Homo sapiens: one gene and its partners. The protein of the gene in region 1 interacts with the protein of each later gene in a pairwise test. Each region holds a gene or a part of one and is shown in the gene's direction. Other genes may lie near its edges.

The links.
Region 2: the proteins of ARPC4 (region 1) and WASL interact in binary tests that used the Homo sapiens proteins (3 or more experiments, as listed by UniProt).
Region 3: the proteins of ARPC4 (region 1) and METTL21A interact in binary tests that used the Homo sapiens proteins (3 or more experiments, as listed by UniProt).

Annotation. Positions count from the first base shown.
Region 1 is NC_000003.12:9,795,704-9,803,757, forward strand, and holds part of ARPC4 (actin-related protein 2/3 complex subunit 4), read left to right. Parts: intron 1-1,955; coding exon 1,956-2,074; intron 2,075-4,481; coding exon 4,482-4,593; intron 4,594-5,957; coding exon 5,958-6,053; intron 6,054-8,054. Other genes in the region: ARPC4-TTLL3 fusion protein, read left to right, coding at 1,956-2,074, 4,482-4,593, 5,958-6,053. UniProt on the Homo sapiens protein: Actin-binding component of the Arp2/3 complex, a multiprotein complex that mediates actin polymerization upon stimulation by nucleation-promoting factor (NPF).
Region 2 is NC_000007.14:123,682,534-123,690,587, reverse strand, and holds part of WASL (actin nucleation-promoting factor WASL), read left to right. Parts: intron 1-1,437; coding exon 1,438-1,546; intron 1,547-6,007; coding exon 6,008-6,069; 3' UTR 6,070-8,054. UniProt on the Homo sapiens protein: Regulates actin polymerization by stimulating the actin-nucleating activity of the Arp2/3 complex. Involved in various processes, such as mitosis and cytokinesis, via its role in the regulation of actin polymerization.
Region 3 is NC_000002.12:207,621,956-207,630,876, reverse strand, and holds the start of METTL21A (protein N-lysine methyltransferase METTL21A), read left to right. Parts: upstream 1-5,482; 5' UTR 5,483-5,815; intron 5,816-5,888; exon of another isoform or gene 5,889-5,940; coding exon of another isoform or gene 5,941-5,986; exon of another isoform or gene 5,987-6,035; intron 6,036-6,258; exon of another isoform or gene 6,259-6,472; coding exon of another isoform or gene 6,473-6,501; coding exon 6,502-6,648; intron 6,649-8,921. UniProt on the Homo sapiens protein: Protein-lysine methyltransferase that selectively trimethylates residues in heat shock protein 70 (HSP70) family members. Contributes to the in vivo trimethylation of Lys residues in HSPA1 and HSPA8.

The DNA of each region.
Region 1 (8,054 bases):
GTACTGAGCTAGGTTGGAGGCTATATAGCTGTGAATAAAATAGATATGGTCTGTTGACCATGAGGTTTACAGCCTAGTAAAGGAGAAATCACTTACAAAGGCATGAAGGAGGGCAGGTGCAGTGGTTCATGTCTGTAATCCCAGCACTTTAGGAGGCCGAGATGGGCGGGTCACTTGAGGTCAGGAGTTTGAGACCAGCCTGGCCAACATGGCGAAACCCCATCTCTACTAAAAATACAAAAATTAACCAGGCACGGTGGTGCACACTTGTCATCTCAGCTATTCGCATGGCTGAGGCAGGTGAATCACTTGAACCCGGGAGGTGGAGGTTGCAGTGAGCCAAGATTGCACCACTGCGCTCCAGCCTGGACAACAGAGTAAGACTCTGTCTCAAAAAAAAATAAAAAAGGCCAGGCACGTTGGCTCACGCCTGTAATCCCAACACTTTGAGAGGCCGAGGTGGGCGGATTGCCTGAGGTCAGGATTTCAAGACAAGCCTGACCAACACGGTGAAACTCCGTCTCTACTAAAAATACAAAAATTAGCCAGGCATGGTGATGTGCGCCTGTAATCCCAGCTACTCGGGAGGCTGAAGCAGGAGAATCGCTTTAACCCAGGAGGCGGCGATTGCCGTGAGCAGAGATCGTGCCACTGCACTCCAGCGAGGGTGACAGAAGCGAGACTCCCTCTCAAAAATAAATATTAAGAAGACATGAAAGACATTTTTTTGTCAATTGTAATAAATACTTTATAGGGGGATGTCAAGGTCTCTCTCAAGAGGCCTTCCTTAATTAAGCTGAGATCTGGAGGATGACTTAGGCAAAGAAAGAGGAGAAAAGCCTACAGATAGATGGTCAAGCATGTGTAAAGCTCTGAGGTGGGAAAGAATTTGGCTGATACAAGGACTGACCAGTGCAGCTAGAAGCTAATCCCTCTCCTAAGAATGTCCTTATTCTGGCAGGGTGTGGTGGCTCACGCCTGTAAACCCAGCACTTTGGGAGGCCAAGGCGGGCAGATTACAAGGTCAGGAGATTGAGACCATCCTGGCTAACACCGTGAAACCCTGTCTCTACTAAAAATACAAAAAGTTAGCCGGGTGTGGTGGTGGGCGCCTGTAGTCCCAGCTACTTGGGAGGCTGAGGCAGGAGAAGGGCATGAACCCGGGAGGTGGAGCTTGCAGTGAGCCGAGATCGTGCCACCGCGCTCCAGCCTGGGCAACAGAGCGAGACTCTGTCTCAAAAAAAAAAAAAAAAAAAGAATGTCCTTATTCTCCTTTTTCTCCTCCTAATCCCATTTCACCTTCAAAACCAGTTTCTTCTGCAAATATAGATTACTTGTAAATCTAAATATTTCACATGTCATCTTTATATCATAGTTATTTTCTGTATATTTGCTATCCAGTTGAGCTGTTTGAGGGTAGAGACAGTGTTAATCATCTTTGAATTCCCAGTTAGCTCAGTGCGTGGCAAACAGTACACCTATACATTTGTTGGCCTAATAGATTGACGACAATCATGCATTCACTGGTGTGTCTCTAGATCACTTTCTCAACCTTAGCACTATTGATATTTGAGTCTCGATAATTCTTTGTAGTGCATTGTAGTATGTTTAGTGGATATCTGTCCACTGAATGCCTGCAGTTCCCCTTCTTGCCAAGTCATGACAATTGAAAATGTCTCAGCATTCCTCTGGTCTGACCCCAGGTTAAAAAAGAAAGAAAGGAAATGTCTCGACATTACCAAATGTACCCTGGCAGGCAAAATTGTCTCCTGTTGAAAACTACCACTCTACACCTTGGAAGGCGTCTCGAAGGCCTAGTCTGTTCTGTTCACAGTAGTGTCTTAAGAGCCTTGCACCCTCAGTGCTACCTGGCTTCATGGGAGCTGGAATAGGGGATCGGTGGGTTTGGCGTGACAGATTTTGATCTTCCCTTTCCTCTGTGTTATTTCCTATAGACTGCCACTCTCCGCCCCTACCTGAGTGCCGTGCGGGCCACATTGCAGGCTGCCCTCTGCCTGGAGAACTTCTCCTCCCAGGTTGTGGAACGACACAACAAGCCGGAAGTGGAAGTCAGGTAGGGAAGGACAAGTCAAGGTGGGGATGAGGGGTGCAGCACACAGAGATGGCTGCTGTCTAGAAGGTGCCATGAACTTATGTCCTGCAGTAGTCAGGAAAGCTGCAGTTGACATTTTGTCTTGCTGCCAGCTGAATGGTGATTCCCAATTTGGAGTTAAGAAAATAGGGTCAGTGGGTTGGCAGGACAGAACCCAGGGGAAAAGACAAGATTGGTTAACACAAGGTATGACTTCTCAGAGCAGGGCTGTTGATGAAGTCTCTCCTGTGGCATTGTTGAAAACACTGGTAGTTTAAGGAATGGTCAGATAATTGTTATCTGAGATTCCATCTCCATACTTTTCTTTTTTTTTTTTTTTTTTCCCATCTCCATACTTTTCTAATGTAATGATCAGGGATTTTTTTTTTACCTACCAGCCTAGACACTCTGACCCCCTAATCCAAATACTTCATATTTTGAATGATTTTCTCTTATCTAGTTTCCATTTCATAAATATCTTTTTCCCCTTTAAAATTTAATCTGGAGGCCTGGTGCAGTGGTTCACCCCTGTAATCCGAGCACTTTAGGAGGCTGAAGTGGGTAGATCGCTTGAGTACAGGAGTTCAAGACCAGCCTGGGCAACATGGCAAGACTCCATCTCTACCAAAAAAATATGCAAAAATAGTCAGGCATGGTGGCACATGCCTGTAGTCCCACTTCTCTGGAGGCTGAGGCAGGAGGATCTCTTGAGCCTGGGAAGCAGAGGTTGCAATGAGCCAACATTGCGACAGTGCACTCCAGCCTGGGTGAGACCCTGTCTCAAAAAATAAGTAAATAGGCCGGGCACAGTGGCTCACGCCTGTAATCCCAGCACTTTGGGAGGCCGAGGCAGACAGATTATGAGGTCAAGAGATCGAGAGCATCCTGGCCAACATGGTGAAACCTTGTCTCTACTAAAAATACAAAAATAAGCTGGGCATGGTGGTATGCACCTGTAGTCCCAGCTACTCGGGAGGCTGAGGCAGGAGAATTGCTTGAACCTGGGAGGCGGAGGTTGCAGTGAGCCAAGATCGTGCCACCGCACTCCAGCCTGGCAGCAGAGCAAGACTTCGTCTCAAAAATAAAATAAAATAAAATAAAATAAAATAAAATTCATTCTGGTACATACATAACTGAGATAATCTGGGTTACAACATTAAATGATACGATTTAATTTTTAATTTTAAAAATAACTGATAAAGATGTTAGGATATGCCCTGTTATACTGTGTAACGTACACGATTTCCAGTGGGCCTTTGAAAATGGTTAGCAGTTTAGAGACACCACACCACAATTAATTACTATTAGAGATCTCTAGGTATTCAGAGGCATTACTTTGTAACCTGAACTCATAGGGGTCTCAGAGGCAAATGAATCATTTCTGGATTGATAATTAAAGGAAGCCAAACTGTGTTCAATTTTAGCCTTTCCTTACCTCTAAGACAGGTGTTCTCTCTGTATTCCTAAATGGTATATTGGTTTGCCTGTACAGGTTGAGTATCTCTTATCCAAAATGCTTGGGACCAAAAGTATTTCAGATTGTGGAATATTTGCAGATACTTAACCAGTTGAGCATCCCTAATTCCAAATCCAAAATGCTCCAATGAGGATCTCCTTTGAGCATCTTGTCAGCACTCGGAAACTTTCAGGTTTTTTTTTTTTTTTGAGATGGAGTTTGATTCTGTCACCCAGGCTGGAGTACAGTGGTATGATCTTGGCTCACTGCAACTGCCACCTCCTGAGTTCGAGCAATTCTCGTGCTTCAGCCTCCTGAGTATCTGGGATTATAGGAGTGCGCCACCATGCCCAGCTAATTTTTATATTTTTAGTACAAATGGGATATCACCATGTTGGCCAGGCTGGTCTCGAACTCCTGACCTCAGGTGATCCACCAGCCTCAGCCTCTCAAAGTGCTGGGATTACAGGCATGAGCCACTGTGCCCAGCCAGTTTCAGATTTTGGATTTCAGATTTGCAGATTGGGGATGTTCAACTTGTAGTTACTAAAATAGCTATCTTTTGTAAAGCTCCTACTATGTGCCAGGCACGCTATTAGACATTTGACCCTTTTTGATCTCTCTCAGTCCTCGCCAGTGAATTAGGAATCAGAGTCATTTTACAGATGAGAAAATTGAGATTCCAACAGGGTAACTTGCCCAAGGAAAGTAACAGAGGAGGCTGGATTTCAAAACCTTTTCGCCCTGACTTCAGAGCCTGTGCTCTTTCTGCTGAAGAACACACTCACTGGCCCCCATCTTGGAGCACTCCTGCTTGTGAGTCTTCTATTCCTTGGACTCTATGGTCTCATAGTGATTCCAGGACCTGCGTGGGGTCACTCTGACTATTCTATCCCTCTGTAGTACAAGTACTCTGTCACATTATGTTTTCAGGAGTAGCAAAGAGCTCCTGTTACAACCTGTGACCATCAGCAGGAATGAGAAGGAAAAGGTTCTGATTGAGGGCTCCATCAACTCTGTCCGGGTCAGCATTGCTGTGAAACAGGTAAGTTCACCATGGAGGAGGCCCAACGTAAGGCCTCTTTCAGTCCTTTCAGCCTCTTTCAGTCCGGGGTCCCCATCTGAGAGATCAGTGTGCCAGATTCCAGATTCAGAGTGCAGGAAACCTAGCCTCTGCTTCCTTTTTTTTTGACACGGATTCTCACTCTTGTCGCCCAGGCTGGAGTGCAGCAGCATGATCTCAGCTCACTGCAACCTCTGCCTCCCGGGTTCAAGCAGTTCTTCTGTCTCAGTCTCCCAAGTAGCTGGGATTACAGGCATCCGCCACCACGCCCAGTTAATTTTTGTATTTTTAGTAGAGACAGAGTTTCACCATGTTTGCCAGGATGGTCTCCATCTCCTGACCGCAGGTGATGGGCCCGCCTCAACCTCCCAAAGTACTGGGATTACAGTCATGAGCCACCATGCCTGGCCAGTAGAGGGCAACTCTAAACTTTCAACAGGATGAAAACGAAGCACTGTTATTAAATGCAGACTACACACTGTTTTCTACAGAAACTTATAAACCTGGGGCCTGCTTTCCTTGCTAAAATGGGAGGTTAACAAGTGTTGAGAGGTGTTAAGGGCATGCTAGCAACCAGCAGCAATAATCTTCCTTTAGAAATGTTGAGAGTTCAGGGCCAGGCACAGTGGCTCATGCCTGTAATCCCAGCACTTTGGGAGACCAAGGCGGGTGGATCACTTGATGTCAGGAGTTCAAGACCAGCCTGGCCAACATGGTAAAACCCTGTCTCTACTAAAAATACAGAAATTAGCCAGGCGTGGTGGCACGCGCCTGTAATCCCAGCTACTTGGGAGGCTGAGGCAGGAGAATCGCTTGAACCCGGGAGGCAGAGCTTACAGTGAGTCAAAATCGTACCACTGCACTCCAGCCTGGGTGACAGAGCGAGATTCCATCTCAGAAAAAAAAAAAAAAAAAAAAAAAAAGAAATGTTGAGCATTCAGAAGGGAGAAACTTCAGGGATTGTTGGATGTTCAGTGTTATTAAAGCAGAGACCACCTAAGGTTATCTCTGATAGCCCAGGTGATGCTGCAAAACACCCTGGGAAATGTGACACTAGTGAAATGAGAATGGAAAGGGCAGCTTGGAGTACAGCTGTAGACTCTGAAAGAAGCAATAGAAGCCTGTCAGAATTACCTCTCTGGAATGGGTCGTCATTAAGAGATGCCCCAAGGTAGACCCTTGTTTCAGTTGACAGCCAGGTCCCCCACTTCAGTGATCCTTCCGAGTACCAAACCTCACTGTCTCCTGGGAGCCTTGAAAAAACTGGAGTCAGAAGACCAGGCTACAAGGTGTTTTTGGCCTTGGGTGTCAGCTTTAGAGAAACATTTCTCTCTTGCACTCCCCAGGCTGATGAGATCGAGAAGATTTTGTGCCACAAGTTCATGCGCTTCATGATGATGCGAGCAGAGAACTTCTTTATCCTTCGAAGGAAGCCTGTGGAGGTGAGACCCTGTGACCCATGAGTTTGCGATACCCAGGACCCTGTTACAGAATGGCCTGGGATTGTTTCTAGAACCAGCTACTCCAGCTGTTTGGCACCCACTGCCTGAATTGAGAGTTGGCCTTCATCTTGGAGTGGGAGCAAAGAGGATTAGAAGCTTAGGAAAAGTTGGGTCTACCTCAGCCATAGAAAAGGCAAAAAAGAGCCGGGCGTGGTGGCTCATGCCTCTAATCCCAACACTTTGGGAGGCCGAGGTGGGTGGATCATGAGGTCAGGAGTTCAAGACCAGCCTGGCCAACATGGTGAAACCCCATCTCTATTAAAAATACAAAAATTAGCTGGGCATGGTGGTGGGCGCCTGTAATCCTAGCTACTCAGGAGGCTGAGGCAGAGAACTGGTTGAACCTGGGAGGCGGAGGTTGTAGTGAGCCAAGATCGTGCCACTGTACTGCAGCCTGGGCGACAGAGCAAGACTCCGTCTCAAAAAAAAAAAAAAAAAAAAAAAAGGCAAAAAAGATAAGACACATTGCTTATTCCCGGAGCCTATAGTCTAGCATCAGAAAGAGCACAGTGAATTAGAAATCCTTTCTAAGATCTGCCAAATGAATCATAGTCTCTCTCTCTTTTTTTTTTTCTTTGAGACGGAGTCTCGCTCTGTCGCCCAGGCTGGAGTGCAGTGGCACAATCTTGGCTCACTGCAAGCTCCGCCTCCCGGGTTCACGCCATTCTCCTGCCTCAGCCTCCTGAGTAGCTGGGACTACAGGCGCCCACCACCACACCTGGCTAATTTTTTGTATTTTTAGTAGAGACGGGGTTTCACCATGTTAGCCAGGATGGTCTCGATCTCCTGACCTCGTGATCTGCCTGCCTCGGCCTCCCAAAGTGCTGGGATTACAGGCTTGAGCCACCGCGCCTGGCCTTTTTTTTTCTTTTTTTGAGATGGAGTTTTGCTTTTGTTGCCCAGGCTGGAGTGCAGTGGCGCAGTCTCACTGACTGCAACCTTCCACCTCCCAGGTCAAGTGATTCTCCTGCCTCAGCCTCCCGAGTAGCTGGGATTATAGGCACGCATGTGCTACCATGCCCAGCTAATTTTGTATTTTTAGTAGTTTCATTGTGTTGGCTAGGCGGTCTCAAACTCCTGACCTCAGGTGATCCGCCTGCCTCGGCCTCCCAAAGTGAATCATAGTCTGCAATCTGGGCTCACTGCAAGCTCCGCCTCCTGGGTTCACGCCATTCTTCTGCCTCAGCCTCCCGAGTAGCTGGGACTACAGGTGCCCGCCACCATTCCCGGCTAATTTTTTGTATTTTTAGTAGAGACGGGGTTTCACTGTGTTAGCCAGGATGGTCTTGATCTCCTGACCTTGTGATCCGCCCACCTCGGCCTCCCAAAGTGTTGGGATTACAGGCGTGAGCCACCGCGCCCGGCCCACTGAATCAGTCTCTTAAAGCCACAGTTAACATTGGGTCAGTTGTTGCCTGAATTTGTACTTGAATCTTCTCCACAGACTCCTTGCCAGGTAAACTTAAAATATCCCCAGTGACTAAGCAACTACCACACAGCAGCATGTGCCATCATCAGACACGTCAGGCGTGTTAGCCAAGTTCTTCCTCATTCTGAGCCAAATTTTCTCTCCTGGTCCTAGATCTAACCTCTGGGGCCACCCGGAATAAATAAAATTGATCTTCCTCCCACAGCCCTCCAGCAGAAAAAGACCCTTAATCCCACCCATCTTCCACATCATCTCTTCTCTGGACTAAATGTTCCCTGTTGTTTGATTAGATTATTCTGTAACAAGACTTCAAGTTCCTTGACTCATTCTGAATGCAGAGCTGTTGTGCCACAGATAGTTTTCCAGAGATGTCTGATACACACAGAATTCTCAACGGGGTTCAGTTGCTTGGATCCAACCTAGACACCCTCCCCCAGAGCAGCTGGGCTGCTGACTGGAAGGGTATGTAGCTTGGGAGAAGATCACAGCCAGTGGGAAGCATGTGGATGAGT
Region 2 (8,054 bases), on another chromosome or scaffold:
TGTAAGAATGGGGGCCATTTTTATCCTAAATAATCACTTTCCTTTTGATTGCATTTATTGCAATCATAGGGTGCATAATCAGTGAACTATTGGCATGTTATACATGTAATCCGAGTTCGTTATTTTTTGAAAAAGACCATTTTGTGGTTGAAATTTCTATGGCTATGTTTCTTTAAATTTTTTGAGTAAATCATCAATTTATTCTGTGATGAATATGATTAACATAAAACCATAGACTTACTTTAAAGAGCTAGTAGGAGGTATTGAATACTCACATATATTTTTGAATTCCATGGTTTTAGTACCTCAAATAGTACTTTGTTCAAGTAAGCACTTCAAAAAATGTGTTTGATGAGAGTATGCTCACTTCTGCTTTGTGCTCTCTGCTTTACATTATCACATTGCTTAAAGGTAGTCTAAATGTCCCTACCGCTGTTGTACCTCCTTGAGAGCCTTGTGCAGAAATACAAAGCTCTGAAACTCTCTGTTATCTTTTTTCATTTGTGGTACTTCTATACTGGAAATAGTTAATACATAATGTTTAAAGCCAAAATACTAAGGAATGAATCTATATCTTAGGGGGAACCACTTTGAATTTTTTTAAAAAAGGTGTTTACTCCAGAAAGAACAAGGAGTATTAGAGGAAGAATTGTACAGATCAAAATGGAAAGTTTGTCTAAATAAAATTGTCTTTGGGAAATGATTAAGAATTTCAAAAATATATATTATATATGTATGTATTAAAACATAGGTAATTATTTAATACAGCTATGCTGTTTCATCTTTAATTATAATTTTTTTTTTCATGAATGCACTTTGGCACAGCTGGAAGTACTTCAGTTAGGGATTGTTACTTGCCTAGTGAGGCAGGTACATTTTGAAAGTTGATCAACTCATCTCCTTAAAAAGAAATTATATACTATGAGAAAAGAGGTTCATTTTGAAGGTATAAATGTAACATAAAGGTGTAAAGCTGAATTTTTGTAGGCAAATATAAGTTTCTACAGTTGTTTTTCAATATCTTCAGTGTGCGTCCCACGTAACAACTCTGGAGTCTAAGTATTAACCTCTGTTTATAACATGAAATCCCTTGATAAAAGCTTTAAAGTTGATCATCTAAGTCTGTGTGTGCTGGAATAAACAGAAGTAACCCAGCAAGTATTATTCAGGAGAGGGTTTGTTATCTGAATGTAAACATAGATTTGGAAATGTATTTTTGGCTTATACATTAAGATGGAAAGGAAATATTTTTGAATAATATCTTTAAGGCAGCAGTTTATTTCTTGTTAATTTGATTAATCTTGTCCTGCGCTTGCCAGTTTGATATCTTTTTTGTCTTTTACAATAAGAAGTGATTCTAAGAAAGTAGGACTTTCTGGAGACAAAGATTCTTGGCTAAAGATTTATTACTGAGTTTTGCTAACTTTCTTTTCCAAGGTGGCTGATGGCCAAGAGTCTACACCACCAACACCTGCACCCACTTCAGGAATTGTGGGTGCATTAATGGAAGTGATGCAGAAAAGGAGCAAAGCCATTCATTCTTCAGGTAGAGAGAGAGAGAGAGAGAGAGAGAGAGAGAGACAGAGAGAGTGTGCGTGTGTGTTTAATAAATTTGAATGTTTGACGTTCTGTTATTTTTATGACTGTCTTTGCTAGCTTTCTCTCTGCTAATTGAGTAACTACTGATGTGGGCTCTAGGATGTATTTTAAAAAGTTGTTGCCTGTGTGACTAGTCTCTCTGAGACTTAACAAATGCAACACCACCACAGCCATAGCCATAAATTGAAAGAACAGCTTTGGGAATATTGACAGTTTTGTTTCCTATATCAGGAAATGCTAATAGACTTCCTAGCAAACAACCTCTAAACAAAGCTTGAGATTTTTAGATCTCATTCCTGTGACATTACTGTGACATGAAAAATTCAGGGCTGGGTGCGGTGACTCACACCTGTAATCCCAGCACTTTGGGAGGCCGAGGCGGGTGGATCACCTGAGGTCGGGAGTTCGAGACCAGCCTGGCCTACATGGAGAAACTCCATCTCTACTAAAAATACAAAAAAGTTAGCCGGCGTGGTGGCGCATGCCTGTAATTCCAGCTACTCGGGAGGCTGAGGCAGGAGAATTGCTTGAACCCAGGAGGCAGAGGTTGTGGTGAGCCAAGATCGCACCATTGCACTCCGACATGGGCAACAAGAGCAAAACTTCGTCTCAAAAATAAAATGAATAAATAATAATAATAATAAATCGGGCCATTTACCTCATCTGTAAGGATTAGGGATAAGAATTTCAGTAATTTTTACTGTTTCTAGAGTTTGCTAAAGAATACTAACTTTTTTTAAACCTTTCTTTTTCATTTTCTAAAAGGTTGATTTGAAGAAACCAGTACCTATTCTGAGGTTATTATTAAACATATACATACCACCATATAAATATTCCTTTAAAGAAAGAACAAGAATATGAGTTTTGCTGATTGGAGTAGTTGAGGTTTGCTAAATAGCTTCTCCAACATGATGTGCTAGAATCAGATCTTTCTTCTTAGATTTATTTAATCTCTGTGAGCCTCAGTTTCTTGTTTGTTACATTCAGAGAACTCACAAAACATATAGATGTGAGAATTAAATAGTATGTCACTAACCTGCAGATTGCCTAGCACATAGTAGGTGCTTAATAAATGTTACCTTCCTTTTGTTTCTCTGTAAGGATGTCCATGTCTTAAGATCCTTGAGCAATGTTTGTTTTCCTTAAATAGGCATATTTGTACCTACCCTCCATTACAGAGATAGAGATAAATATTTATTGTGGAATAATAATAAAATTTTAACAAAAAAAAAGTCCCTGCCTTCATCGACATGCATTAGGTCTAATGAGAGAGAGAGACAAGCAATAAACAAAGAAAACTAGAAAAACATACAGTATGTTAAATGGTGACATGAAGTAAGGACAAAAGTCTAACAGAAAAGGGAAATAGGGGGCAGACTGTTGAGAGAGAGGTTCATTTTGAAATGATAAAGGATGATAAGGGACAATAAAGCCTAACTGAGGTGACATTTGAGAAAAGACCAGCAGTTCAGGAAGTGAACCATGTAGAAAACTAGGGAAAGTGTATCCGATGGAAAGAACAGAAAATATAAAGTCTGTGAGGTTGAGAAACAATGAGGAGATCACGGAGCTTGCAAGGGAGGGAGGGAAAGAATAGTAAGGAATGAAATACAAGAAGTAGTAGGAGGCCAGTGGTAAGGCTTTGGAGACCCCTGAAAGTGCACTAGCTTTTATTCTGCATATGATGGGAAGCCATTGGAGGGTTTTTAGCAGAGGTGTAGTAATGATCCAAGCAAGAGGTGATGGAGGCTTGAACCAGGTTTATAGCACCAATGAGAAGTGGTTAAATATTAATTATATTTTGAATGTGGAGATCACTGGTTTTGATGATGGTTTGAAAGTGAAGGTTGAAGAAAAAGAAGAGTGCAAAATGACTCCAAGGTTTTTGACTTGAACAACTGGAAAGGGGAAAGACTTACGAAGAAAAAGTTTGAGAGGGAAGATTAGGAGTTTGATTTTACATATTAAATTTGAGATACCTATTAATTCAACTATAGATGTGGAGTAGGCATTTCGTTATGAGTCTGGAAGTCACAGGAGAGGTCTGAATTGTTAAATTGCATGTCAGTAGGATATACATAGACACCTGGTATTTAAAGTTATGGTTATGTTTATGGTATAGTCTTCTTTAGCATAAAAACAGTGAAAATTACCTAAATTCTTAGCCCTAATCCTCACAGATGAGGTAAACTGCCTGAATTTTTTATGTCATAGTAATGTCATAGGAATGAGATCTAAAAATCTCAAGCTTTGTTTAGAGGTTGTTTGCTAGGAAGAGATAAAGAAAGGTCTTCATTCATTCATAAAGAAATGTAAGGCTTCTGTGAACTACATGATTCTGAAAAAGCATTTATTCTATGCTGGTATCTGTGAGTTCTGCTAAATATTTCCCTACAATAAGTTTTTTTTTAATAGTATGTAATAGTCACGCTAATATAATGAAAATATAGGATGGTTTTTACTTATTTTCAGACCCATTTATTTTAACTGTTAGTATTTCTGTGGTAGTACCTGATGATGAAATTATTAGCTACTTCTTCCTCTTCACCATAGATACTGATAAGTTTCTGTCTTTTGTCAGTCTGTAATGCCAGCATAGTCAGGTGTCTTTGATGCTTTTCATCCAGGTAAATTTTGTGAAGCATGTCTAGCAAAATCTGGTAGCAAATTATTTCCCTTGCTAGAAGAGTAAACAGAAATTAACATGACTCAATTGAACTCCTTTCCAAATAAATTCTGTAACAATTTAGAGCTGACCATGAGACTTAAATAAATAAATAAATAAATAATAAATAATTATCGTTTTAAAAGTAACAACTTAGTTTAGGGCTAAGAGAAGATAATGTTGCTTCTCTTGGGCTTCTGTTAATTTTCAAGTTCTAATACTAGAGCTCCAGTACTTCTTCAAATACTACCTTCACACAATCAATTTTACATGAGAAAAATAGAAGAAAAAGATTGTTCTGTGTTCTGTACATGTAACCCACACGTATGTCACCTAGTCTTACTGGCTTTTTATCATTATCAAGTACAATTACTCAGCCACTGTCCCACTTTATATACTTGGCCTTCATGGGTCCTATATATATATTTATATACATATTTATATATATTTATATATTTATATATAGGTATATGTATTTATATATTTATAGGTGTATATATTTATACATATTTTATATATAGATATATGAAGAGGTTAAATATGGAAAGTCAGTATAATATAGAAGTATGCTTATAAAATCTGATAACTAAATATTCCTTCAACAAATATTTATTGAATGGCTGGTGTGTAGTGCTGTTTTGGTGTTGAGGATACAGTGAGAAATAAGATAGGCAAGGTCCGTGCTGTCATGGAGCTTAATAGATAAAGTACAATAATTTTAGATATTAGCAAGTGATATGAGGAAAGTAAAATGGGATAGGCCGTTACTGATTATGGGGAAGAGCTATACTTTACATATGATGGTCAGGAAAGGCCTCTCTGAGGAAGTAGTTTATGAATGGTTTCTAAATGATGAAAAGATTCAGTTTAACGAAGAAATAGCTACTGCAGAAGTTCTAAAGCCAGAATAAGATTGGTGAGTTTAAGGGACAGAAAGGAGACCATCTTACTAGAGAGAGTGACTTGAAGGGAGAGTACATATGAGAGAAGTTTGGGGAGAGAGAGAGACAATAACTGGACAAATCATGTAGGGTCTTATGGAGGGAGGTAGCATCAGATTTCATTCAAATAGCAGTGGTAGCCACAGGAGGACTTTAAGAAGGGTAGCAACATATTTTTTAAACTTGAAATTTAAATAATATCACTCCATTTGCTCTGAGTCAAATAGACTCTAGAGTTGCAATAATCCAAGCAGGATGTGATGGTGGTGTGGAGAGTAGCAGTGAAAGAGGTGAAAAAGAGCAGGCTTGATAATTGGATCGTGAAAAAGGAGGAAGTAATAATAATTTCTAGGTTTTTGGCCTGATTATGTGACAGGATGGTGATGCCATTTATTGAGATGGAGCAGCAGACCAGGATGGAGCAGGAAAAGAAGATTGGGGAAGGAAATAAAAGTTAGAAGTTTTGAGTTTGAGAATCCATATGAAGAGTACAAGAAGGTAGTTGGATTTGTGACAGAAAGGTCAACCCAGATGATTTTATACATTAACAGGTTGAAATTTGTCACATAGATATTAAGGAACTAGAACCATTGTCTTCTAAGCCCTGTTTTAATCTTTAGTTTACTATCATACTCTATAGATATATTTCTTTAGATTCACTTTAAACTGTTTTAGTAACTAGATTCTTCTGGGAGTCACATTATCTGTGTTTCAGGAGTTAAATAATTGGAGAAACCACCCAAGAATTATGTAATGTCATTTTATTTATGCATATGTTTTAATTGTCTTGATTTTCTTGTAGATGAAGATGAAGATGAAGATGATGAAGAAGATTTTGAGGATGATGATGAGTGGGAAGACTGATCTATATATTATATATATATATATATTTTTAAGGTGAAATACTAAACACTACTTTCTGTCTGTGGATTCTGTAAAATTATCATGTAAATGTTCTACCAATTTGCTGTATATTTTTGTTGCCTTTTTTGCTTTTTTTTAATCTGTGCAATACCTCATTTAATCTGTAAAGGTTTGTCGTAATCCTCTACAAAGCTACTCCCTGTTATTGTGTGCAAGTTTACACCAGGATGCTCACTTGATTTGTGAATATTTTTCATTCCATCAACAAGGGAGTTTAAATACTATATGTGAGACTGACAAAAACCTTAATGTAATTTACTTATAATGCCAGAAGGAAAACACTATTTTCATACCCTACTTTTTCTGTACCTAAATTTTCTTAAAAAAAAATCTAGTATAGCACTACATTCTTTTTTAAGTGATGCAGACCTTAGTTTCTTTAGCCCCTTTATTTTGAATACAATGCTACATATGAATGTTGAAGCTGATACATTGCACAGTTCTGTAGACATCACTACACCGATGTAGTTTCTCAAATTTTAGCAATATGCTCTACATAAAATCACTACAGAGATACTAGTGGGGAAGACGATTAACACACCTCTTACAGTAATACTGCCTGTTATTGGTATAGCAGTGGTATTTGCAGACTGGGATCATAAGGAGCCCTTAAATACTTGTTATTGACTGGGGTTATTTTTATGCTGTAGCAAATGTGACAGGCTCTTTTTAGCAAAATTTTTGAAAATTTTTTTGGTATTACTCTGAAACAAAATTTAAGTTGGAGTTTCAGGGATTTAGGGAGTAGTTTTCATTCTACATGAACTGAGGTAATATTATGGTAACTCCAATATTTGGTTAAAAAAACTATACAAATCAGAATAGTACTAAAATACTGTAGAATTTTAGCATTTTTATTTTGCACTTTGTGTGGATTGAGGTGTTCAGAAATACCAACCATAAAAATGTAATCTAGTTGGCAAAGGTGTGCGCTAAAACACGGAACCGAACATGCATTGATTTGGATAACTTTTGAGGGTTTTTGTCAAATAGCATGTGAAGAGTTACATTTTTCTTAAAAGATTGGTGGTCCCAATGTCAGAGTTCTTGGAACAGATAACTGAATGATAGATTTTTTTTTTTTAAAGATAAAACTTTACAACCTGCACATTTGTTATGCATACTAAATGGTGTGTTAAAATTAGGGTTTCTTTGCCTCTCTACACTACACTAATCTGCCTAAAGGTGGTTGTTTCATATTTATAATGCTAATTATCATACCTACCTACTTTAAATTTTAGGTAGAAAATTATCTGATTTAAATACAAACATATTTTTCTCACATTGAGTAATATGCATAATGTAGTTCCAAATGTATTTCATTACTATAGTCACAATATCCAACTAAAAATTACGCTATCTAGAATTGTACCAACCAAAATCTCGTATTGGCAGATCTTGACAGGCTGGACCTGCAAGATGTGGCTTGAATTTTAACCATTTATTACATAATCTCTAGTGATCATGCATCTAGTTATCATAAGAAATAATTTAAAAGGTTTTGTTGCTGAAAGCAGTAAGTGGTGCAGTAAAATACTTAAGTTATTCAAAGAATGTTATCTTTCTTGCAAGAGTAATTTAAGCACATGGGAAAGATTCTAGACTTTTTGTTTCTTGCAACAACAGTGCCCTCTGCTGCTAGAAACCTTTTTCTACTTACTATCATTTTTATTGTGGCTTGAGCTCAGTCAATCTGGTGCAGATGAGGCTGGACAACTACTAACCAATAAAATCAGGAGTTTGTACAAAAGTTAAATGGAACATTATAATTATTTTAAGTAATGTTAATTGAAAAAATTTTTTCTTTTTGACAATATAAAAAACATTTTAAATTTCCTAGAAATGTCTTCAGGGTAATGCCAATTTAAGATCTCTCTTAACTTGTGGCCAAGAAATTCTAGATTTTCCAGCTGACTTTGGTATAA
Region 3 (8,921 bases), on another chromosome or scaffold:
TGAGGAACTTACAGAATGTTTATATTCTGTCTACATCACTTCCTAAAAACAAAAAACATCCTTTTCACTGGGACTCTGGCTGTATGTATGTCACAGGCACTCCAGCGAGCTTAATCAAGAAAGGAAAATGTCTTGTCTGGTTACCCTGGGTTCCCATGGGACCTGAGAACCCAGGTGCAGCCAGGAAGGGCTCAGGACAAGAGAGGCATCAGGAAAACGGCAGCTGGCAGCTCAGCCCCAAGTTTCTGCTGGTGACTGCTCTCTGTAGAATGGTTTCTCCATCTATACCGCACAGTGAAGATGGCCCCATACAGGCATGGCTTTATATCTCTCCTTTGCTCAAGGGACCGGCCCAGACTGAATGTATTAGGATTGTTTTTCTTCTTCAGGATATGGAAAAAAAAAAAAAAAGCTGCTCAAATGACAGCTTAAGCTAATTAGGGAATTTAATGGCTCAAATAACTGAAAATTCCAGGACAGCTGGATCCAGGTGGTCAAACATCAACAGGAGGCAGCCTCTCTCTCCACCAGCGCCTTCACTGGCCACATTTGCTGCTAGTTTTGTTCTCTTGGGACCAGATGGCCAATAGGACCTCTAAATTTCTATCCTTCCCCAACAGGCTGGTTCTCTGAGAGTCTCAAGTCTCAGAATGGGTTCTGGTTAGGCCCAGCTTTGGTTACATGTTCACATCTCACCTACCTGTGGCCAGGTGGAAGGACTGTGTTCATATTGGCCAGGCCTGGGGCATGTGCCTGATCATGTAGTAAGGGCTGAGGATAGACCAGTCCAAACACATAACAGTATAAGCAAATGCTCTATAAAATGTGTTTGTTGGGCGCAATTCTAAGTAGATAAGTTAACTCATTTTAATCTCAGGTTATCTTTGTTGTTTACTCATACAATAATCACATTATCCCTATTTTATAGATGAGGACATTGAGACACAGGTTAATGCATTTCACCCAAGCCCTCACAGCTAATAAATTGCAGAGCTGAGTTGGTGCAGAACTTGCACTCCAGAAGCTGGGCTCCTGACCATCAGCAGAAGAGAACTGCTGCTACCAGGAAAATGAGAAATAGATGTTGGGCAGGCAGTAACAACAGATGTCTGATAGTCACTCTGCATTCTTTCTGCAGAGAGAATTATGTACCCAGCGTGGGGTTGGGTATCCACCCTGGCCTAAAAAGGGAACATGCCTGGGGGAACATAGGGATCAAGCTGTGCCAAGGTAGTAGCAAGGTGACTGCTTCTACTATGACCTTGGACATGGACTAGTTCCAGGAGACAGGAGGGACAAAGGCCTAAGTGTCCTTCTACCATTATTTTGCAGTCAGGCATCATAGGATTGGGAAAAGGACATTTCAATCATTCAGATAAAAGTAAAAAGCACTATTTTTTTTTTTTTTGAGACAGAGTTTCACTCGTTGCCCAGGCTGGAGTGCAATGGCGTGATCTTGGCTCACTGCAACCTCTGCCTACTGGGTTCAAGAGATTCTCCTGCCTCAGCCTCCCGAGTAGCTGGGATTACAGGCATGCGCCATCATGCCAGACTAATTTTGTATTTTTGGTAGAGATGGGGTTTCTCCATGTTGGTCAGGCTGGTCTCGAACTCCTGACCTCAGGTGATCCGTCCGCCTCGGCCTCCTAAAGTGCTAGGATTACAGGCGTGAGCCACCTCGCCCAGCTAAAGCACTATTTTATACACTGTTAACACTACGATTAAACTGCACTTCGGAATTACAAACAATGCGGGAAGTAAATCTATCTTTTTGCATATTCCTAACAAGACTGTCAGGAGAGGCCAGGCTCAGTGGCTCCCGCCTGTAATCCCAGCACTTTGGGAGGCTGAAGAAGGAGGTGGGGGGATCACTTGAGGCTAGGAGTTCAAGTCCAGCCTGGGCATCATGTCAAGACTCTATGTCAAGACTCTCTCTATACAAAAAATAAAATTAGCTGGGTGTGGTGGCACACACCTGTAGTCCCAGCTACTTAGGAGGCTGAGGTGGGAGGATGCCTGAACCCAAGAGGTCCAGGCTGCAGTGAGCCATGATTGCACCACTGCACTCCAGCCTGGGTGACAGAGTGAGAAGACTCTGTGTCAAAAAAAAAAAAAAAAAAAAAGACTGTCAGAATTTCTTTTTTTTTTTTTTTGAGACAGGGTCTTGCTGTGTCACCCAGGATACAGTGCAGTGGTGTGACTTCAGGACTCACTGAAGCCTCCACCTCTGGGCTCACATGATCCTCCCACCTCAACCTCCCACGTAGCTGGGACTATAGGTGTGCACCACCATGCTCGGCTATTTTTTTTTTTAAATTTTTTTTTTTTTGAGACAGAGTCTCGCTCTGTCACCCAGGCTGGAGTGCAGTGGTGCAATCTCAGCTCACTGCAAGCTCTGCCTCCTGGGTTCACGCCATTCTTCTGCCTCAGCCTCCTGAGTAGCTGGGACTACAGGTGTCCACCACCATGCCCGGCTAATTTTTAGTATTTTTAGTAGACATGGGGTTTCACCGTGTTAGCCAGGATGGTCTCGATCTTCTGACCTTGTAATCCACCCGCCTCAGCCTCCCAAAGTGCTGGGATTACAGGTGTGAGCCACTGCACCTGGCCTTTAAAAAAATTTTTTTAGACATGGGGTCTTACTATGTTGGCCAGGCTGATCTTGAACTCCTGGGCTCAAGTGATCCTCCCACCCTGGCCTCCCAAAGTGTTAGGATTACAGGCGTGAGCCACCACACTTGGCCGACTACTCCAAACAATATGTAGTCTGCCACACACCAACTTGTTTTTAGGATTAAAAATGTATTTTCAAATATTCAGTGGACCACTGGCTTATTTTGATAAAAACAGAGCTCTGCTTAATGGCTACACTGCTATACGAGTTGCATATGTTCCTCAATATTCCTTTTGGTGCTTCCTGAGCCATCTGATACAGCTTAGAACATTGGGAGGACAAGACGGTTGAGAAAAAGTAAATGACACCTTCCTAGAAAACTCATAATATAATGAGGCACATGTTCCATGTTAGAGTGCTGGAGAGGTGGGGAAGGTTTTGCTTTGTTTTTTGAGGTCATATGCTTGATTTCAGCAGAAAGGATGGAGAATAGGGAGAAAAAACAGAAGGGGCCCAAGGCTCCATGCCAGGCTTCAGGGATGAGCAGCCTGGGATCTAGCGAGGTTTAGTAATTTCCCAAAGTCATCCCATTTAAAGAGTCAGAGGAATAATTTAAATTTTCCATATTTGTCTGGCCCCAAAGCCCATACATGTTCTTTCTTGTGCCCATTGCTGGTTCTCCCTGCAAAAAGGGACAGAGAGAAAATAAAGGCAAGAAAGGGAGGTCTTCGATAAAGGGAAAGCTGAGAGGCAGAAACACCAAGTGCAGGAGGTAAGAGAGAAAGGAAATACTAAGAGAGAAAGCGAGAGGACCAAAAAAGAAAACGAAAAAGGAGGTAAAAGTCCCTCACTGGTGGTCTTCCAAGTTCCCTGAGGTTACCCTCGAAGCCACAGGCCCCACCTTCCGATGGAAGATTAATCTGGAGGCCGGGGACGCCGCCTACAGGACGGAAGAGGCCAGGAGAGAGAGGTTCAGGCCCCCGCCAGGCTCCCACCGCGGGAAGCAGGCTCCCGGGGGCGGCCCCGGGAGCTCTTAAAAATATCAGCGCTTGCCGGGCGCGGTGGCTCATGCCTGTGATCCCAGCACTTTGCGAGGCCGAGGCGGGTGGATCACCTTTAGTCATGAGTTCGAGACCAGTCTGGCCAACGTGGTGAAACCCCCGTCTCTACTAAAAATACAAAAATTAGCCAGTCGTGGTGGTGGGCCCCTTAATCTAAGCTACTTGGAGGCTGAGGCAGGAGAATCCCTTGAACCTGGGAGGCGGAGGTTGCAGTGAGCCGAGATCATGCCATTGCACTCCACCCTGGGTGACAAGAGCGAAACTCTGAATAATAATAATAAAAAAAAAAAATCAGCGCTCGGGCGGTAGGGGTGGGGGAGGTGGCAGTGGTTCACACCTGTAATCCCGCATTTTGGGAGGCTGAGATGAGCGGATCACCGGAGATCAGGAGTTCAAGGCCAGCCTGGCCAACATGGTGAAGCCCCGTCTCTACTAAAAACACAAAAAAAGCCGGGTGTGGCGGCGGGCGCCTGTAATTCCAGCTACTTTGGAGGCTGAGGCAGGAGAACTGCTTGAACCCGGGAGGTGGAGGCTGCAGTGAGCCGAGATCGCGCCACTGCACTCCAGCCTGGCGACAGAGCAAGACTCCGTCTCAAACAAACAAACAAAATCCCACAAAAATTAGCTGGCGTGCTGGCGCAGGCCTGTAATCCTAGCTACACGGGAGAATGAGGCAGGAGAATCGCTTGAACCCGGAAGGCGGAGACTGCAGTGAGCCGAGTTCGCGCCCTTGCACTCCAGCCTGGGCGACAGAGAGAGACTCCGTCTCAAAACAAAAACAAAAACAAAAACAAAAGCAAAAAACCAAACAAAAAAATCAGCGCTCGGGCCCCCTCCCATGGCCAGCTCTTGGGGCGGGGGACTGGTAAGGGAGGTTTACCCCAGCTGGTTCTAACGTGCAGCCGCGCTGAGAGCGCAGCGGGCGGTGTGGGGCGAGGGGCCCCAGGAGGAAAAAGAAGCCTGCCCCGGGAGGATGCCGGTCCCCGCACGGTCCCACTCAATGGACCCACTCCAGCCGCGCGCTCTGCCAGGGCCTGCGGCCAGGGTACCAGGCCCTCGGCACCTTCCACGTCCAGCGTGGGTCCTCACGGGCAGGTGCGTCTTGGCATCGGGAGGAGGGAGACTGGGGCACTGGAGTCTGCAGCGCCGCCTGGGGCCGGGGCTGGAGCCGAGCGCACGCCCAGAGCTCCGCGCTTCCGACTGCAGCCAGAGCCCGCCGACCCCCGCCCCACTTTAAAAACTTGGACTCGGGCGCCACGTGTTCACTTCCCCCACTGTGCTTTAGTTGAAAAGGGTTTTGTGACTTTTCCACTCGATTGCCGCCAAGCGGGCTATTACGCCGCTTCTGACCCCACCGTGGAGACGCGGGGACTAGAGTGACCATGCCTTCTTCGGAGCGAGCTGTCTCCATCATCCGCTAACGCGCCACCTTTAAAAAACAGGCACAACGCGCAAGCGACAAAGTCAGAGGCAGAGAGCGGCGGAGCACATGATAGAAAAGGTCGAGAGGCACATTCAGCGCCAGGTGGGTGGCTTTTCTCTCCCGCTAGGAGAGCCCAGGGCACCCCATGCTCTCCCTGTGCACCCGCGGCAGTTCGGCACCCCGATCTCACTCTTGCTCCCGCCCCCACAGCGCCTCCCTCGGCGGCGGGGGAAACGGATTAAGTCGTCCGTGTACCCTGGGGACGCACGAGGGAAAGCCCCGGTCCCCCCTCCCGCAACGTCACTCCTCCACCGCGCCACGGCCCGGCCCCGCCCTCGCCGTGAGCTCCGGGGGCACCTGCCGGAGGCTGGGTGCCGGGAGACCGGAAATGCGTGGCTCCGGGCCGGGGCCGCCCGCCCCCGCGTCGCGGGCTCTTTAAGGCCGGCGGTTTTCGCAGCCAGCCCGGGGCGGGGAAAGCGGAGCGCGCGCTCCACGCGGGACCGCCTCCCGGGCCGTAAGTACCGGCGTGGCGGCGCCTCAGCCCGGCCTGGGCGAGCCCTGGGTGCTCCGCCGGGCAGCTCACGGCGCCCCGTATGGCCTGGGGATCCTAAGAGGCCCTGTGACCCCCCTCGCCTGGTCTCCCTCTCACCCCTGGAGGGTTGCCGCAGCTCCGGGGCCCCCGGGCAGGAAGGGCGCACTGGTCGTCCCGGGAGAGGGGTGAGTGGGGGGCAGCTATAGGGGGAGTTCGGGGAGGCCTCCGAGTCCCCGCTGTCCCCGCGAGCCGCTTGGAGGCCCCCAGTGTCGCTCACTTCCAGGGTCGGGGAGACGGAACTGCGGCGACCATGTATTTCTGGTTTATCAAACCGCTAACACCCAGTCTAAGGGCAGGTTCTGTCCCATTGTTATCACTATCGAAGCAGCCGATGGAGGAGGGGAGGTGGGTAGCGAAACCGTAGCGAAAGAACCCGGGCCGCCCGGCTGGCTGCAGCTGCAGTCCGGGCGCCCGGGTCTGGGTTGGAAGCGCTGCTTTCCGCGCTGCTCTGGGGCCCTGGGCGATCACCGCCGCTTCCGCCGCTTGTGTAGTTCTGAATTCACGGAGTGGTAGCAGTGCAGTGTATAGGGTATTCTGCGGAAGTTGGAATGTTCTGGGCTTTTTTTTTCTTCTTCCCCAAACACATCCGTTGACACAAATTCCGAGCCAAATCTCACTCAGATTCGGAAGAGCCATGCAAAAGAAATTGGACAAAGGCTTCCTCCACCTGTTTCTTTTTTTCTTTTGAACTTGTAAACGACCTTAAAAGCATTTGGAGTTAGTTAAGAACAGATAATGTATCTTTTGGCCAGAGCGTCACCCAGGATTCTTTTGCACGGCAGGTCTGAGCAGAGGGCGGGGTGCAGGCGGAATGGCCCTCGTGCCCTATGAGGAGACCACGGAATTTGGGTTGCAGAAATTCCACAAGCCTCTTGCAACTTTTTCCTTTGCAAACCACACGATCCAGATCCGGCAGGACTGGAGACACCTGGGAGTCGCAGCGGTGGTTTGGGATGCGGTAAGTAAGCCCTGGGGGACCTCTGAAAACGTTCACACTTGCAAGACTGGCTTTTATTTTTTATTTTTTTTAGAACAGCTTTATTGAGATATAATTCACATAGCATACACTTTACCTATTTAAAGTGCACAATTCAGTGCGGTTTTAAAAATACAGTATATTCACAGAGTAGTGCAACTATTACCGCTTCAATTTTAAAAGTTTTACTATCACTGCCACTCTCAAACCCGTATCCCTTAGTCACTCCTCTTGTCCCTCCACATAGATTACATTTTAAAGGTGTAAATGAAAGCTGAGGAAAGTTAATGACTTGTCGGAGAGGATAGGAAGGAAAGCCCCCAACTGCTTTGGACACGAGTTAGTCTTTTTTTCTTTTGAGACATAGTCTCGTTCTGTTGCCCAGGCTGGAGTGCAGTGGTGCGATCCTGGCTCAATGCAGCCTCCGCTTCCTGGGTTCAAGTGATTCTCCCACCTCAGCCTCTGGAGTAACTGGGGCTACAGGTGCACGCCACCACACCTGGTTAATTTTTGTATTTTTTGGTAGAGATGGGGTTTCGACATGTTGGCCAGGCTGATCTGGAACTCCTGACCTCAAGTGATCCACCTGCCTCAGCCTCCCAAAGTGCTGGGATTACAGGCGTGAGCCACAGCGCCCAGCCGAGTTAGTCTCTTTATTTCACAGAGTATTGTAAAGTGGCAGAGCCCAAAATGGAGATTATGTGTTTTCTTTAAGTTTTCCATAGTTGTAATTGTTAAAAAATTGTAACTGCTTTTTAACTTCTTCCTCTCCCTGCCCTGTTCTGACTTGAGCCCTCAGCATCTAGCCCCACACCTAGGACTCAGTGGGAACTCAATTAATGTTGAATGCATGATTGGCATAAATACAGTTTGACAGTTTTAACATTGTTAGGGATGTTAAACACGTAGGAATAAAAATCTCAATATATTCTAATGTAGTAATACCACTTCTAGGAATCCAGTCCAGGTAACTACATGGAAGTTACTCTGGTAATAATAAAGATATAGGCCTGGTGTGGTGGCTCACACCTGTAATCCCAGCAGTTTGGGAGGCCGAGGTGGGCAGATCACTTGAAGTCAAGAGTTCGAAACCAGCCTAGCCAACATGGCGAAACTCCATCTCTACTGAAAATACAAAAATTAGCCGTGGTGGCGCACACCTGTAGTCCTAGCTACTCGGAAGGCTGAGGCAGGAGAATCGCTTGAACCTGGGAGGCAGAGGTTGCAGGGAGCTGGGATTGCACCACTGCACTACATCCTGGGTGACAGAGTGAGACTACATCTCAAAAAAAAAAAAAAGATAAATAATAACGAGGAATGGGAAGACTCGTAAATGCTCACCAAGAAGAGGAATTGCCAATTATACTCACAGTATGCGGCTGTGAGAAATAAATTATAGTAACAAGTTATGTTAGCTTTATACACTTCTTTCTGTAGGGTCATAAACAAATGTTGAAACCACACATCAAGTATCCAAAACTTTGGCCAAAACTTACCTTCTGATGCCCAAAACGTATGGTGAGGGCCCCTGTGGGGCGATGACCATCAGTGACGCAGTTCAGAGACCCTTGGGCAATGTGTTGCTTTTTCCCTATGGGTGAAGTTGTGGCTTTGCTGACCTGAGTTTGGTTTAGGAACTGGGCATTCCCTTAAACAAAATCATAGAAATTGTTCATGTCAGTTCTTGCAGAATAGTTGTGTAAACTTCAAGCATAAAAGTGCTGTGACACAGTAAAAAGTTAAGCTTTCCAGGCTGGGTGTGATAGCTCACGCCTATAATCCTAGCACTTTGGGAAGCTGACGCAGGAGCTCAGGAGTTCAAGACCAGCTTGGCCAACATGGCAAAACCCCATCTCTACCAAAAAAACTACAAAAATTAGCTGGGTGTGGTGGTGCACGCCTGTGTCCCAGTTACTGGGGGTGCTGAGGTGGGAGAATCGCTTGAGCTTGGGAGGTGGAGGTTGCAGTGAGCTGAGATTGTGCCACTGCACTCCAGCCTGGGTGACAGATGGACTGAGACTCCATCTCAAAAAAAAAAAAAAAAAAAAATTAAGCTTTCCAGATCCAGCAGGACCCCATTTAGTGTGGGCATCATCTCTGGGCACTGCTGTGGGACCCTGTGCTTGCTCTAAGGGGGAGGTTACCTTGCTGCACCAGCTAAGTTCCTGTGTGTGTTGTTAAGCTGGGAATTGAACCTCGAAGTGGGAGAGGGGTGGGTGTAGCTGACCTGAAACCCTGCAGCTACTCAAGCACAT